Linked DNA regions of Homo sapiens: all the other regions are linked to region 1. Evidence: fine-mapped expression QTL. A gene starts in region 1. Each other region holds a variant in brackets. All regions are shown on one strand. Distances are between the middles of the regions.

Evidence for each region. PIP is the estimated chance that this variant, and not a neighbour inherited with it, causes the effect.
Region 2: its variant is fine-mapped to the expression of TMEM63B in whole blood (TOPMed, PIP above 0.99).
Region 3: its variant is fine-mapped to the expression of TMEM63B in testis (GTEx, PIP above 0.99).

What each region holds. Positions count from the first base shown.
Region 1 is chr6:44,125,517-44,130,734 of GRCh38, reverse strand. TMEM63B (transmembrane protein 63B) reads right to left here and starts at 3,181. Exons shown (of 24, transcript NM_018426.3): 1 at 3,057-3,181. MRPL14 (mitochondrial ribosomal protein L14) reads left to right here and starts at 3,283. Exons shown (of 3, transcript NM_032111.4): 1 at 3,283-3,391. RefSeq lists silencers at 2,501-2,660, 2,841-2,950, 2,991-3,390, 3,411-3,460, 3,491-3,550.
Region 2 is chr6:44,157,569-44,162,786 of GRCh38, reverse strand. CAPN11 (calpain 11) reads right to left here and starts at 3,967. Exons shown (of 23, transcript NM_007058.4): 1 at 3,923-3,967. The coding sequence starts at 3,938. LOC107986599 (a long non-coding RNA gene) reads left to right here and starts at 4,184. Exons shown (of 3, transcript XR_002956350.2): 1 at 4,184-4,202. RefSeq lists a silencer at 1,148-1,237 and an enhancer at 2,621-2,790. The variant C/T (reference allele first, on the strand shown) is at 3,202.
Region 3 is chr6:44,145,636-44,150,853 of GRCh38, reverse strand. TMEM63B (transmembrane protein 63B) reads right to left here. Exons shown (of 24, transcript NM_018426.3): 11 at 3,927-4,007; 12 at 3,354-3,477; 13 at 2,469-2,602; 14 at 2,204-2,341; 15 at 1,909-2,062; 16 at 889-995; 17 at 544-630; 18 at 225-290. Among named protein-coding and RNA genes, the nearest start is that of CAPN11, 11 kb to the left of the region's middle. RefSeq lists an enhancer at 1,515-1,684. The variant C/T (reference allele first, on the strand shown) is at 3,024.

The DNA.
Region 1 (5,218 bases):
TCACACCTGTAATCCCAGCACTTTGGGAGGCTGTGGTGGGAGAATCACGTCAGCCCAGGAGTTCGAGACCAGCTTGGGCAACATAGCAAAACCCCGTCTCTACAAAAGATACCCCCCACCACCAAAATTTAGCTGGGCATGCTGGTGCATGTCTGTAGTCCCAGCTACTCCGGAAGCTGAGGTGCGAAGATCACCTGAGCCCAGGGAGTTCCAGGCTGCAGTGAACCAAGATCATGCCACTGCACTCCATCCTGGGCGACAGACAGAGACCGTGTCTAAAAAAAAAAAGGAAAGAAAAAAGAAAAACAGAAAAAGAAAAAAAAGTAGTAAAATAATAGTATTAAATGTTTATTTAACTCTTCTTTTGTGCCAAGCACTGTTCTAAGCACTTTACAAATGTAACTCATTTGCTCCCCATCACAACCCCAGGAGGACACTGAGATACAGAGAGAGTATATGAGCTGCTCAAGGTCACACAGCCAGTCTGTGGTAGACCCAGATAAGGACCCAGGCTGCCTGGCTCGAGTGTATGCTCTTAACCACTGCACTTTGCAGAGTTATCTGCAAACAAGAGCCACTTCCACCAGGGAGCCGGAGGCAGTCAGTTACCACACTGGAGAAATGCCATACCCTATTTCTACCTGCTTGCCTTTCCTCTTGCTTGTAGCTTCCCTCCACTCAGGCCTTGGGTTTGTGATTTCAGGTTCTGAGGCAGGCATAGGGGACAGGCACCATAGTCTGGTGGTTAAAAGCACAGACTCTAGGATGTGACAGACCAGGCTTCTAACCTGGGAAAATTACTTAGTCACCCTGGGCCTCAGTTTCTTCATTTGTAAAATGGGACAATAATCCAGTTGTGTTGTTGTTCTGGGGATTAAACAAGATGACTTATGTAAAGCTCTTAATATAGTTCAAGGCATATAATGGGCTCTAGGAATTAGTTATTGTTATTAATAAGGTATGGAATAAAAGGGGTTGGTTTAGAGAAAGAAAATTGGTAAAAACAAAAATAAGATAAAAACACAGAATGTAACATGATAGAAATATAACAGAGCCCCTCAGTCAGGTTGGGCTTCTTATTTAGACCTAAGGGTTTACACTGTGTTAGGGACTCTGCCACTGAGTGACAGGGAATATTCTCACTCTTTGAACATACCCCATCCATCTGTGGTAGCCTGGGAGGTGGAGGCATGGGAGAGTTATGGGTCAGAAGTTCAGAGATGATAACCCATTATTGATCAATTACCAGGAAGGATGCCAAGCTCTTTACTTCTGTTACCTTGTTTGATTCCCATGATAAAACTTGTAAGGAGGTGGTAGTAACCACACTTTTTTTCTTTTTCTTTTCTTTCTTTTTTTTTTTTTTTTTGAGACAGTCTTGCTCTGTCACCCAGGCTGGAGTGAAGTGCCACAATCTCGGCTCACTGCAACCTCCGCCTCCCAGGTTTAAGCCATTCTCCTGCCTCAGCCTCCTGAGTAGCTGGGATTACAGGTGTGTGCCACCATGCCCGGCTAATTTTTGTATTTTTAGTAGCGATGGGGTTTCACCATGTTGGCCAGGCTGGTCTCGAACTCCTGACCTCAAGTGATCTGTCCGCCTCAGTCTCCCAAAGTGCTGGAATTATAGGCATAAACACTTTTTAATGAAAACTGAGGTTCAGACAGGTTAAGTAACTTGTCAAGGTCACACAGCTGAAGAATAGTAGAGCTAGAATTTGAACGCAGGTCTCTAAGACTCTGCTATACTTGGAGAGAACTTGAATGATGTCCAAGGGGGTTCTTAGTTACCCACTGCCTGCCTTCTGCCTTGCCATGTCCCCATCCACCCACAGGCCAAGACTGCACTGAGTGAGCCAACAGCAGGCCCCAGCATGTGCCACCTGGGGCATGCCAAGGCCTGGACCCTCTGGTGCCCTGGAGGACAATCACGCTGCCAGCACACCCCCACTTGAAGCCTGGCTGACACTCCCACTCCCCACCTCACCCTGGCCTGGGAGGCAGGATGGGCCCCTCTTCAGCAGGTGTTGGGCACAGCCTCATTGCTCCCCGGCTGCTGCAGACTGGTAATGGGTAGGCAAGCCCCAGCCCCCCAGGGCGGTGGAGTGCTCAGGCTTGCCCCGAGCGGCCAGACCTCTGCCCAGGGGACCCAGGCAGGGGGCAGCACAGCGCCCCAAGGGCAGCCAGCCCCTCTGACCTCTCCTCCCCACTTCCCAAGCGTCCTTTCCTTTTCTGGGGAACAAGGTGCCAAGCTTTGGGACTGTCCGCCTTAGGCGGTCAAGACAGCCAGGAGGGACAAAGCGGCGCCCCCTCCCCACAACAGGGCCTTTGCCCCACTCTCGGTTTCGCGTCTGAATCTTTTCCCCACCGCACCCTCCAACGCAGGCCCGGGCGGCTCATGAATGAACTGCACTGTGTGGGGCGCAAGGAGAGGACACGCTCCCGGGGCCGGCCGCCTCTCCAGCCCGCCGACCAGTCAGTCCCCAGAGCCGGGGGCAGCGGCCGGCCTCGTGCCAGCACCTGCGAACCCTGCCCTTGCCCGAGCCCGAGCCCTTACCCCGGACCGGCTTCGGGTGTACTCGCCCCCGGGAGCAGCAGAAAAAATAAAAGGCACAGAAGGCATCGGACTTGGCGACCCCGGGGTCCAAAACTCGGGGGCGGGGGCGGCTAGTTCCCCAAACGGCGGCGGACAGGCGGGGCGCAGCTGGCACCCCCGAGGGTCGCGCAGGGGACGCGCACCTGCACCGGGCAGGTGGGAGAAGAGTGGCACTCGGGGGCCGGGGGCGGGGGTCCCACCCTTTGGGATCTCCCCGGGGCTGGGGAGAGCCGGCGGCGCGTATCTGGACCTCCGGCAGGGGTTGGAGGACTCACATTTGGCTCGGGATGGTGCGGGGTTGGGGGCAGCGCGCGCCACCCCTGGGTCCCGCGGGCCCGGGCACCTCTGGGTCCCGCAGGAGGTTGAAGGGAGGGGACGCGCAGCTGAGTCCAGGTTTTTTCTTTGGGTGGTGGTGGGATCTTCGAAGAAAAGAGCGAGGGCTGGGTAGGGGTCGCGTACTCACCCCCAGGCGCAGACTCGGCTCCGGCTCGGAGCCCCGGGTTGGGGCGGGGCGGGGCTGGGGGAGGGGGAGGGGGAGTCGCTGGGCGGCTCGAGCTCCGGGCTCCTGCGGCGGCCGCGGCAGTGTATGGGGGAGGGGGAGCGGGGGGAGGGAGGGGGAGGGGGCGGAGCCCCGCAGGTCCCGCCCCGCACGCCGGCGCACGCAAGGTGCGCGCGCACTCTCAGATCGCGTCCGCCGGGCTGGGCCTGGCGCGCAGGCGCTAGGAAGAGGCCGCGTGGGGCGAAGGCGGCGCTTGGCTGGTGGGGCCCGCGGCGGGATTTTCCCGGGCGGCGAGAGCGGTATGGTGGGGGGCAGGGGTGGGCGTTAAGTCCTCATTCCCTCCTTCTCCTCTTCCTTTCTCTGCAGTAGGGGAGGCCCACTCCCCGGGGTGAGTGAGGAGAGGCCAGAGTGGGAGGCAGAGCGTCAGTGGGAGGGGTCCCGACGGGGAGGGGGGGGTCCCGACGGGGAGGGGGGTCCCGACGGGGAGGGGAGGCCCCTTACCCGGATCCTCCTCCCTTCCGCTCTCCGTGGGCTGCTTCTGCGACCCCCAAGTCCGTGGCCGGCGCTCACCTGCTTTCCCCGGGTTGCGGCGTCGACTTGGGGAGGGCGGGCTGCGTTCAGCCGTCGCTGGTCACTCCGGAGCGTCTCCTCCGGCTTCTCCGCTTTCCGCGCTCCCCTCCCCTTTCCCAACTTAGGTCTGGAGATGAGTTAGCCAGACGCCTCTGTGGTGTGAGGATTGAGTTTTTGCTTTCACTCTGTCAACGCTGATGAGTGCGCCCTCCCCCAGGCCAGGGGGTTCCCTGGTTTCTTATTTCACCAGAGACTGCATCTACCAGTGATTAAGACTGGAAAGATGAAGGGAGAGACTGAGACTCTTTCTATATATCACCCACACAAATAGATCATAAAGGCACAACGGGCACCAACCTGGTCATTTAATTTCTGGTTCCTGGAGGGGACAAAAAGGAAGTATTGCTTTCCACAGCCGACGATAAATGAACTTTGCCACCGTAAGAGACGGACGGGACTGAATTTATAAAGAGGTTAAAAGGGCATATGACAGACACCTCAGGCTACTTGGGAAACTCTGGGAGTTTGGGAGATAATTAACTCTCAGGGCTGGTGGTGGTGGGGAACTGCCACTGCTGAACAGAAGGACACTGCCCACCTGGGGGGTTTGGATCTTGTAGTTGGTCAGCGTCTCTGCTGTATGCTGGATTTTCAAGAGTTCATTAGTAGCTTGTGGAATGCAACTGTAAGGTTTGATTTATTGCAGTGTTTTTCAAACTGAATCCTATTGGTGAGTTGGAAATCAGTTTAGTAGATCACGGCCACTTGAAATAGAAAATATCAGAGGGTGTTGCACTTAGGGTATTGTTTCTTGACACTTCAGGTGTACACACACGTGTGAGTGTACTAGGAGGTGTTCTACAGTGTGTTTCTGTAGGTCGCAGTGAGAAAAATTTGAAAAGCGTTGTCTCCTGTGCCCTTCTATTTGCCCTCTTGCCTTTCTTTGCCTGAGTTTTCAGTCACTTAAAATTGTCTGAGGATGCAGTTAGCATGCCAGGAATATACAGTAAAGAACAAGGTGGATCTTCTTCACGGAGGTTACTGTGTGAGACGAAAGACAGTTCACTGTTCATCACTGGAAATACTGTACGTGCTACTGAAAAACAAGGATTTTATTGAGGTAAGAAGTTGGTTGGCTTAATTAGGAAGGGCAGTTTTTCAACTGTGAAAGAAAGGAAGATGGAGATGAAGCCCGTTTTTGGTAAAGTGCTTGGTGGGAAGGGTCTTTGTAGGTTTGGATTCTGGGAGTTGTGAAATTGGTGTAATCTGTTGCTTGTGTGGAACAATAAAATTCACTTTGAGGTCAAATAGTATTATAATGGATATCTGAAAAATGGAAGTGGAAGCCATAGTTGTCTGGTTTTTGGATTTCTGAGGATCACTAGAAGGCCTTTTTTTTTTTTTTTTTTTTTTTTTTTGAGACAGTCTCTCTTGCCCAGGCTGGGGAGATCTGGGTGCAGCAGTGCGATCTCAGCTCACTGCAGCTTCTCCTGGGATCTAGCAATTCTTATGCCTCAGCCTCCCGAGTAGCTGGGACTGCAGGCGCGAGCCACCAC
Region 2 (5,218 bases), 32 kb before region 1:
GGAGAAGACCCTCCCATGCGATTCCTCCCCCAGGTTCAGCTCCATGGGCCGCAAAGACAGGAGAAAGTGCCATGAAAAGGGGCCACCAGGTTGATGGGATCATCAGGGAGGTTCTGTGGGGGAATGACTATCCCCCTTTCCCTATTCTAAGCACATCCCATTCCCCTGAGGGTGGGGTGCACTTTGACGTCCTGGTTCTGGAAGCATCAGGGCTGGGAAGCAGGGAAGAGGGTGGGTAGAGCCAGAGTCTGGGAGTTCTCCTCGCTCTTTTCTCCCTCCATTTTCCTCAAACCCTGTCTCTTCTAACCCAAGCCCTCTGGGATTATCTTAGAAATGGTAATGGAAGCTCCCTCACCCCCTCGGGCTATGATTACAGGTGTGTGTGTGTGTGTGTGTGTGTGTGTGTGTGTGTGTGTGTCTTTATTCAAAGAGACTGTGAGGGGGGCTGCGGGGGCGGGGTTAAACAGTGGAGCCCCTTTCAGATGAAGAGGGTTCCGAGGGAAGGGTGGAAAGCAGTCCTGAGAGGGGAGAGCTGAACACCTTCTGTTTCAGCCCCTGATCCCTATCTGTGAAGCTGGCGGATCAGGATGACTATTCCCATCTGAGCTGGGTGGAAGCCAGGGCCTCCACAGAGAGATTGAGTCAGAAGTTCTCAACCCGGGGTGATTACGGCCCCCAGGGAACAGGTGGCAACGTCTAGAGGCAGTGTTGGTTGTCATAACTGGGGCAGGTCTCAGGGGAGCTACTGGCATCTAGTAAGTAGAGGCCAGGGATGCTGCTGGGCGCCCCTCAGTGTAGAGGAAAGTCTCCACAATAAAGAATTTTCCAGTTCAAAATGTCAAGAGAGCTGGGGTTGACAAACCTGGGTTGAGCGAATCATCTAAGGTCATTCACACGATAAGGCAAACCACTCCATGCCCTTGCACCGTGCAGTCACTCCAGGCAGCCTCTACCCTGGCTGCTCCGAGGACTGAGGGTGTTGAGCTCTCCTGGGGGCCTGGAAGGACCAGGGAAGATGCTGTTGTTTGAGAAGACTGAAAGAACATCAGAGGGCAGGCCAAGGCAATTCAGGTTCCATCTTAACTCCCTTGTCTCATTTCCCCAGAGCCCTCTGTCCCCTAGTCACCATCCAGCCCAACAAGTCATTTCTCACTGTCTGGCCCCCAAACCCTGCTTCGAAGCTGCATACCCAGTCCCCAGGGTGTGAGGTCATTACTCAGCTCTGACTTGCAGGAAGGACTGACACACCTATCCACACCACCACAGTTGTCATGGAAAATGTCTTTAAGTTGGGCACTGTGGCTCACGCCTGTAATCCCAGCACTTTGAGAGGCTGAGGTGGGCGGATCACCTGAAGTCAGGAGTTCAAGACCCGCCTGGCCAACATGGTGAAACCCCGTCTCTACTAAGAACACAAAAATGAGTTGGGTGTGGTAGCACATGCCTGTAGTCCCAGCTATTCAGGAGGCTGAGGCAGGAGAATCGCTTGAACCCGGGAGGTGGAGGTTGCAGTGAGCCAAGGTTGGGCCACTGCACTCCAGCCTGGGCAATAGAGTGAGACTCCACCTCAAAACAAACAAACAAACAAAAACACCAAAAAAAAAAAAAACCCAAAAGAAAATATCCCCTTAGAGAGGGCAAAAGATCCAAGCTGTCACATGGGCTAGGAGCGTGAGAAGGCTGAGACAGACAGACCAAGGCTGCCTGTGGGAAGCACAGACAGATGGCCAGAGCAACACAGTAGCTCCCCTTAACCCTAGGGGTACGTTCCAACACCCCCAGTGGACACCTGAAACTGCGGGTGGTACCAAACCCTGTATATATCAATACTATGTCTTTCCTTTATGTACATACCTATGATAAAGTTTAGTTTATAAATTAGGCACAGTAAGCAGTTAACCATAATAAGTAATAAAATATAACAAATACAACAATACAATAACAGTAATGTGAATGTGGTCTCTCTGTCTCAAAATATCCTGATGTTTTCAGACTGCAGTTGACAGCGGGTAACTGAAACTGCGTGGAAAGCAGGGGCTGCTGCATGTTAAAAGGCATGAATGGACAGGAAGCTTTCTGCTGCAGCTGCACATCCTGTCTCCTCCATCAGACTGAGAACCTACAGATCATTTTGTTGTTGTTGTTGTTGTTGTTTTTTGAGGTTTTTTTTGAGGCGGAGTCTCACTCTGTCGCCCAGGCTGGAGTGCAGTGGAGCGATCTTGGCTCACTGCAAGCTCCACCTTCTGGGTTCACGCTATTCTCCTGCCTCAGCCTCCCGAGTAGCTGGGACTACAGGCGCCCGCCACCACGCCTGGCTTATTTTTTGTATTTTTAGTAGAGACAGGGTTTCACCGCGTTAGCCAAGATGGTCCCGATCTCCTGACTTCGTGATCTGCCCGCCACGGCCTCCCAAAGTGCTGGGATTACAGGCGTGAGCCACTGCGCCCGGCCAGATCGTTTTTAACTAAATCAGTTTTATTTTATTGACAAAAAAAGTATATATCTGTTGTATACGACATGGTGTTTTGAAATATGTATTCACTGTGGAATGGCTCAGTTGAGCTAATTAATATCTGCATTACTGCACATACTTGTTATTTGTTTGTGGTGAGAACACTTAAAATCTACTGTCAGTGATTTTCTTTTTTTTTTGAGATGGAGTCTCGCTGTGTCGCCCAGGCTTGGGGTGCGGTGGCACGATCTCGGCTCACTGCAACCTCCACTTGCTGGGTTCAAGAGATTCTCCTGCCTCAGCCTCCCGAGTAGCTGGGATTACAGGCGCCCGCCACCACGCATGGCTAATTTTTGTATTTTAGTAGAGACACGGTTTCACTATGTTGGCCAGGCTGGTCTCGAACTCCTGACCTCAGATGATCCACCTGCCTTGGCCTCCCAGAGTGCTAGGATTACAGGCGTGAACCACTGTGCCTGGCCTCTCTCAGTGATTTTCTAAATGCAATACATTGTTATTAGGGGACTATAGATTTAAGGACAGTTTGATTTCCGGCACTGGGAAAAAACTAAGATGTTGTGTCAGGGAACTTTAAAAAAAAATAAATACTAATAAGTAATAATAATAAATAAATAAATTATATTTTGAGATGAGGTCTTGCTATGCTGACCAGGCTGGTCTTGAACTCCTGGGCTCAGGGCACTTCTGAAGAACAAGGACTGGGTTTGGGGTCACCAGCTAGGCCTAAA[C/T]TTCCTAGGGTCAGGTAAACAGGGAGGGCCTGAGAAGCTGGGAGGCTGGGTCTAGGGGCCCATGGTCTCACGGTGCCCCAGGCTGAGGGTGAGGTACAGGGCTGACCTTCTGCTGGCCAAGGCTGGCTGCCCTCTGTGCACCCTAGCCCCACAGGAACAACTCAGTTCTGCCCAGCCCTCCCCTTCCCCCCAGCCCACTCTCCCCCATCTCCTGGAGTCTGGTCCCAGGCTTGCCTCAGGTAGTCCTGCCCCTGCCACCCTGAGGATCTCATCTTCCTGGGCTGAGGGACCTGCTTTTCTAGGCTTAGGAGAGGTTCTCTCTGTTCCCTAAAGTTTTCTTCTCTACGTGGGCTTTTTCACACAAACCCTTTTCCCCAGCAGCCATGACAGTGGGATGGCCGGCCCCTCTCCTCTCCCCAACTCCAACTGTCAGTGGAGAGGAGAAAGAGTTCCTGCCCGGCCTACCACCCAGTCTGACCACCAGTGGCCTATCCTTCCCCAAACAGTCTGAGAACGAGGCCCAGGTCCTGTCCTTAGGGAGCATCCAGTCTGATGGAAGAGTCACTCTCTGTACCCTCAAGGGGCATCCAGTCTGATGGAAGAGTCACTCTCTGTACCCTCAAGGGGCACCCAGTCTGATGCGGGACACAGCTCCTCCCCTGGGGGGAGGCTCTAGCCTGCAGGAGGTACAGGAGTGGGGCAAGGCCCCATGAGTGCCTACCTGGGGAGTACAGCATGCTGGTGGCTAGCTCGGTGCTTGACAGTTGAAGGTTCTGGTGGGAGGGGGAGAAGAGACCCTCCCCCCAGAACTCTCTCATTGCAGTGGGATTCCTAGGTCAGCAGCCGGTTTAACAGCTGCCTTCCCTTTTCTCCTTCTCAGTAACCCAGCCCCTTACCCAGCTGAGGGCTACCCGCTTTAGGGACAGATGACCCAGCACCCCTGCCTTGCACAGCCTCCACCAGCCTGGCTGTCCTCACTGTATCACGGTCATCCCATCAGGGTAGGTCCCAGTCCCTTTTTTTCAGCCCAAGGTTTCCAGGAAGGGGTTGTCCCTGACACACCAACCTGACCTTTACATCCAGAAAGCCTTCTCATTCCCAAAAGCCCCTTTCTCACTGACATGGCATTTTTCCTGTGTTGCTGTCTTCACATGGCACCCTCCTCTGTGTCTCTTCTTCTTATAAGGACACCAGTCATATGGGGCTAGGGTCCCATGCATTTCAGTATGACCTCATCTTAATTGAACGAATTACATCTGCAACCACCCTGTTTCCAAATGAGGTCACATTCTGAAGTACTGGGGGCCAGGACTTCAACATGCCTTTTTGGGGGACACGATTCCACCTGCAACACTCTCCTTGCCTAGCCCCAGTCTGGCAAGGTTAGGCCACTGGTCTGACCACATGTCCTGCCTCTGCACTGGAAAGTGGGAATGCTTTGAGCTAAGAACTCTGCTCCAGAGTGCAGTCTTCTCTGGAGTGTATGATGGCTGAGGACAGGGACTGTCAAGGTCATCCCAGTGCCCCTCAGCCCTGCCTGGTGCTAATCAGGCACAGAACAGGTGTGAGAGCACCCAATGGGATCAGAGAACCTTGTTCCAAGCTCTGAAACAGGAGCTGACCTTGGGCGAGCCCTCCCCCTTTCTCCTTTCTGGGACTCAATCTCCTCATCTACGAGAATATTAATTATGGTTTGTTATTATGTGCCAAACACTGGGCTAAGAACTTCCTACTTATTTAATCCTTAAAACAGCCAGAGGCCATGACATTGCTATTCCCATTTTATAGATGAGGAAAGTGAGGTCTAGAGGTATGATGCAACTTGCCCAGGGTCACACAGCTGTTAAGCGGTCGAGCCAGGATTTAAACTAATAACTTCAGATTTTTTTTTTTTTTTTTTTTTTTGAGATGGAGTCTCGCTCTTTTGCCCAGGCTGGAGTGAAGTGGTGCAATCTCAGCTCACTGCAACCTCTGCCCCCCGGGTTCAAGCGATTCTCCTGCCTCAGCCTCTCAAGTA
Region 3 (5,218 bases), 20 kb before region 1:
TTACCAGAGAGTGAACACCAACACAGACCCCAGGGACTTCTACCATGTATACACACCCAAGACACCTTGTGGGTGCCTTTGGGGTAACCCCGCCAGATCCTCTCTCTTCTGCCCCCTCCAGGAGTTGGAAGCTTTGTTGCACCCTCCCATGGGGCTGGCAATGTCTCTCAAGCATACCCACCCCTGCTGTCTGGTCTCTTTCCCTAGGGGCCCCAGTCACTCACTCAAACCGAATAGCTGCCTCAGCCAAGAATTTCTTATCAAAGAGCCAGCGGAAGAAGAGGTCCAGGCTGGAGGGAAGCAGAGGAGAGATGGGGTGGGAGCTGGAGTGGTACAGAACACCAGGGGAGGGGAAGTCCCTCCTCTGTGAGCCACTGGGGAGACTCCCAGACATGGGGTGGGTAGCTCAGGAGGCCTGGGGGTGGCCAGGCTTCCCATCTTGGGCCCCTTGCTTTGTAGGGGAGGTAGGGAGGCTGAACTGCTCTCCTCTCCCTATCCTGCTGTCCCCCTACCCTGGCTCCTGCCCCATCCTTCTCAACTCACCTGCTCAGTCCCAGCGAGGGTAGGAGCAGCACCATGAAGATGAGGAAAGTGTAGCACTTGTGCATGGTTGTCCTGTTCTCCCCAGAGCTGGAGGGAGGGGAGCAGGGAACGGTACAGGTCAAGTGAGCCCAGGCCCCAGACTTGCTCCCCCAACAAGGACAATGTCCAAGGAGTGTCCCCTGGGAAGGGTGGGCCTCCCAAGGTGAGGGTGCTGGGCACTACCCCTTCCCTACCAGCTGTGGGACTGCCCAGGGCCAGGAGCCTGAAGGGCAAAGTGCTGCCCAGAGAGGATGGGTCATTGAGGGCAGGCCACAGCGAGGTGTGGTGTGAGTGGAGGCACCTTACCGTGTCCAGTGGGCTTCAAAGAAGGCTGAGTAGTAGACGATGGTGGGAAGGAGGGCCGAGAAGCACCACAGCAGCAGGGTGGGGAAGAACTGGGTGATGATGGGGTTCTGCAGCAGGGCACAGGGGGGCGTCAGGCAGGGCAGTCTAGGGGGCCCAGGTGGCTTTGCTTATGTGCCTCCTCCCCAGCTGGGCCCTTGGCCTCACAACTCTCAGGGCTCCCATGTTGGAAGCCCAGAACATCCGGAGGGCTGGGGTGAGGGTGGGGGCCAGGGCCATATGTATAACCCCAGGGTGGATAATACTGATAGTCAGCATTTGCTGAACATCTACTATGTTCTAAGCAGTGCTGATGTACTTGCCATGTCTTAATCCTCACAATAATGCTGTTACCCCATTTGACAGATGAGTAAACTGAGGCAAAAAAAAGATTCAATAGCTTCCCTAGCTAGCAAGCCATGAGGTAGGGATTTGAATCCATGCAGTCTGGGTCTTATCTATTATGGTATTATCACTCCAAGTGATTTGCAAACTGTCCTTCTTCAAACTCTGAGGTTCTAAAGAGGTATGCTCTATGCGTGGGAGGAGAGGTGAGGGGAGGCCAGGCAGACATGCATGCCACCCTACTGTCATCGGAGCAGCCCTGCTTTTCCACACTGGGTTTCACACCGATAAAGAGATCAGAATCCAAGTCCAAAGCCACTGATCTAGTTGAACCTTTCCATTTTTTCAGTTAGACTGAGGGGTGAGGGAAGGGGACTTCTCTGAGATCAGGACTAAATGCAGGCTCTCTCTCTTCCCTGGGTGTTTCTCCAGGTGTTGCACACCTGAGGGTGGCCTCTCTCAGGGGGAAGGTGGCAGGGAGCCCAAGGGAAGTGCACACAGGGGTTTTTGGGAGCTGGTTGGTGGCACGGGGTTGGAACAAGCAGAACGGGCTGGGCTGGGCAAGTGGAAGAGGGATCAGGGCCTGGTATCTGTGTGTTGTGACCCAGCGTGGAAAGTGACAGGGGCATGAGGCCTCACGTTGAGGTACTCCACAGGCTTGGTGACGTTGAACTTGTCCATGGTGGTGATGATGATGGCTGGAGTGGTGAGGAAGAAGAGGAGGATGAAGAGGACGACATTGATGACCAGGCAGCGCAGCCACCAGATGAAGCCTCGGATGGAGAGGTGCTCCCTGGCAAGGTGGGGAACCGGTCAGTCCAGGAACCAAGGGCAGGATTGGCCCCCAGTGACACCAAGACACTCCCTCTCCTCCGCCTACCTACTGAGCCCATCCCAGGCCCTGGAAAGCCTGCCCTGACACCTGTTTGCTCACCAGTAGATGTTCTGAGGGTCAGGGGCATAGGACACGGTCCAGTTGGAGATGTGCAGGGACTCGCTGCAGGATGAGGGGCGTGGCTCCCCACGGCAGGTGCAGCCCTGGCATTTACACACGTTGAAGTCCTTCAGGATGCTAGAAAGATGGGCACTGGTTACCACAGGCCCACCTGGAGGCCACACTGCTGGCAGAAGGCCATGAGCACAGGGGTCAGGGAGCCCTGGAGGGCTGCTCAGGGCCGAGGGCCGAGTTGGGGACTCACATGGCGGTGATAGTCTCATTGTGGAAGGTGACAAAGGCCATGCCAAGAGGCTTCTCATTCACCTTCTCCTTCTCCCGCTTGTAGTCTTCCTTCAGCTTCTGCTCCAGCTTTGTGTAGTACTCAATGGCCTCCACCTTTGTGGGAGGGTTAGGGACAGGGCCTCTAGTTGGAAAGCCAGGCTGGGGCCTGCAGCATCCAGCCCACGCTGACTTGGGGCTTCCTACAAGCCAGGCACTGCTCCTCTAAGCATTTTTTTTTTTTTGGAAACAGCGTCTCGCTCTGATGCCCAGGCTGGAGTGTAGTGGTGGAATCTCAGCTCACTGGAGCCTCAAGCTCCCAGGCTAAAGTGACCCTCCCACCTCAGCCTCCCAAGTGGCTGGGAATACATGTGTGCAGTACCATGCCTGGCTAATTTTTGTATTTTTTGTAGAGATCAGGTTTTGCCATGTTTCCCAGGCTGGTCTCAAACTCCTGGCTCAAGTGATCCACCTGCTTCAGCCTCACAAAGTGCTGGGATTACAGGCATATGCCACCGCACCCAGCACCTCTAAGCTT[C/T]TTTATATGTATTACTCACTTTACCCTCACAACACTCTCATAAGGTGGGTACGTTAACCCCATGAGGAAACTGAGGCACTGAGCAGTAAGCAACTTGCTCAAGTCCCCAGAGTCAGTGGGTACAGCACAACATTGTCCTTTTGGCTGACATTTTCTAATTTGAGGTTTGAAAACCTGGTCACTGTAGGGACATTAGACAAACCCAACAGTGGGAACTGAGGCTTCAAGGATTCCAGGGACAGGTGGGGACTCACTGAGGGCAGGGCCCCAGCCTTGCCTGCCCAGGACCTGTCCAACTTCTCCCGACTCAACAGCCAGCCCGCGTCATACCTGCTCACAGCCTCGCACCACACAGCAGCAGAGGTGGCCACAGGGCTTGGGGTTGATCATGGTAGGCACGTTCTCCTTGCTCTGGAGGTTTGTGAAGTACAGCTTTCCCCGCTCGGCCTTCTTCCTGTGGGACCCAGATGCCTGGTCACCTACATCTGGGGCTGGGGCTGGCTCAGCTTGGGGGTCATCTAGCTCACTCCCCAAGGACAGGAGCTGTCTTGTTCTTGTTTAGGATACATGTTTCAGATGTGGCCACATCCCAAGGTCTCCCCACCCATCCCTAGAGGGCCAGAAGTTCTTCCTGCAGGCTGACCTAAATTTCTCATACTGTAGCCAAAGAAGGGCATGTCCTCAGATGCAGTGGGGACCATGGGCCCCCCTTCCCCTCACAACAAACTCTAACCTCCAGGCCTTGCTCTTTCCAGAGCTGAATTAACAGGCACACCAACGAGTTGAATTAAAATCAAATGCCCTAGGAAAAAATCTAGAAGGGGAGCCTGTGTGGTAGCCAAGATGTCCTCCACAATGGCAGGGGGCCCTTGGTGTCACCCTCCTCTGCCCCCAGTCCCTTACCTCTCTGCATCGAGGAACATTAGGCGAGCCACGTTGTAACACGGGCGGGCTTCGAGAACTGTGCAGTTGGGGTAGGCTTCCCTGAAACACAGTTCATGTATCATCTTGTGCAGGGACCCCACCCACCTGCCCCTGACTTTCATCCATGACCCCATCACCTTCAAGAAACACATCTCTGGCTGGACGTGGTGGCTCACATCTGTAATCCCAGCACTTTGGGGGGCCGAAGCGGGAGGATCACCTGAGGTCAGGAGTTCGAAACCAGCCTGGCCAACATGGTGAAACCCTGTCTCTACTAAAAATACAAAAATTAGCTGGGCATGGTGGCACGTGCCTGTAGTCCCAGCTACTCAGGAGGCTGAGGCAGAAGAATTGCTCGAACCCGGGAGGTGGAGGTTGCAGTGAGCCAAGATCGCGCCACTGCACTCCAGACTGGGCGACAGAGCGAGACTCCATCTCAAAAAAAAAGACAAAAAAACCCACATCTCCAATTCAAGCTGCCTTTTTCTTAGTCTACAAAACTGAGAGTTCCCCAAGAATAAAGCTTTGGAGTTCCTCCTCATGCTTATCTGAGTGGGGAAGTGGGAGCAGAAGGCCTGAGCACTGTGTGACTGCAGGCTGGGCTAACAAACCAGGATGTGTAGGGACATACTGCATGCAGGTAGGGAAGCCAGGGCTATGGTCTGATTCCTGTCCAGGGCTGTGACCTTTAGGTTGAAAAAAATTGCATCTAGTCATAGGCTATATAATTCCTTAACCCTGTTCCCAGAAGACCTGGTCACAGCCCAACACTTAGCCTTGACCACAGACTGACCTCAACCAACCCATAACCCAGTCTACAAAATGATCTCTAACTTTGGCCCAAGACAGACAAGAGATTGATCCTGACCCCTGACCAGGGTGAGACTGACCTGTAACCCTGGCCAAAGACTGACCCTTAAGCCCACCCTGGCCAAAGACTGACCCCAGACCTGTTGCCCAGACCCAAGACTGACCTCCTAACCCTGACCCCAGATTCATCCTTACCTTGACTTAAGACTGACCAGAGAGAAACTGGCACTGACTCACTAGTACCTGGTACCAGGCAAGGCTTGAAGAATGCTTGCTGAGTGAAGGAATAGTTCATTTTTTTGTTTGTTTGTTTGTTTCAAATATTCTGAGATGGGGTCTTGTTGTATTGCCCAGGCTGGTCTTGAACTCCTGGGTTCAAGTGATCATCCTGCCTCAGCTTCCCAAAGTGTGGGCATTACACTAGTGAGCCACCATGGCTGGAGGGAATAGTTTCTTTTTGT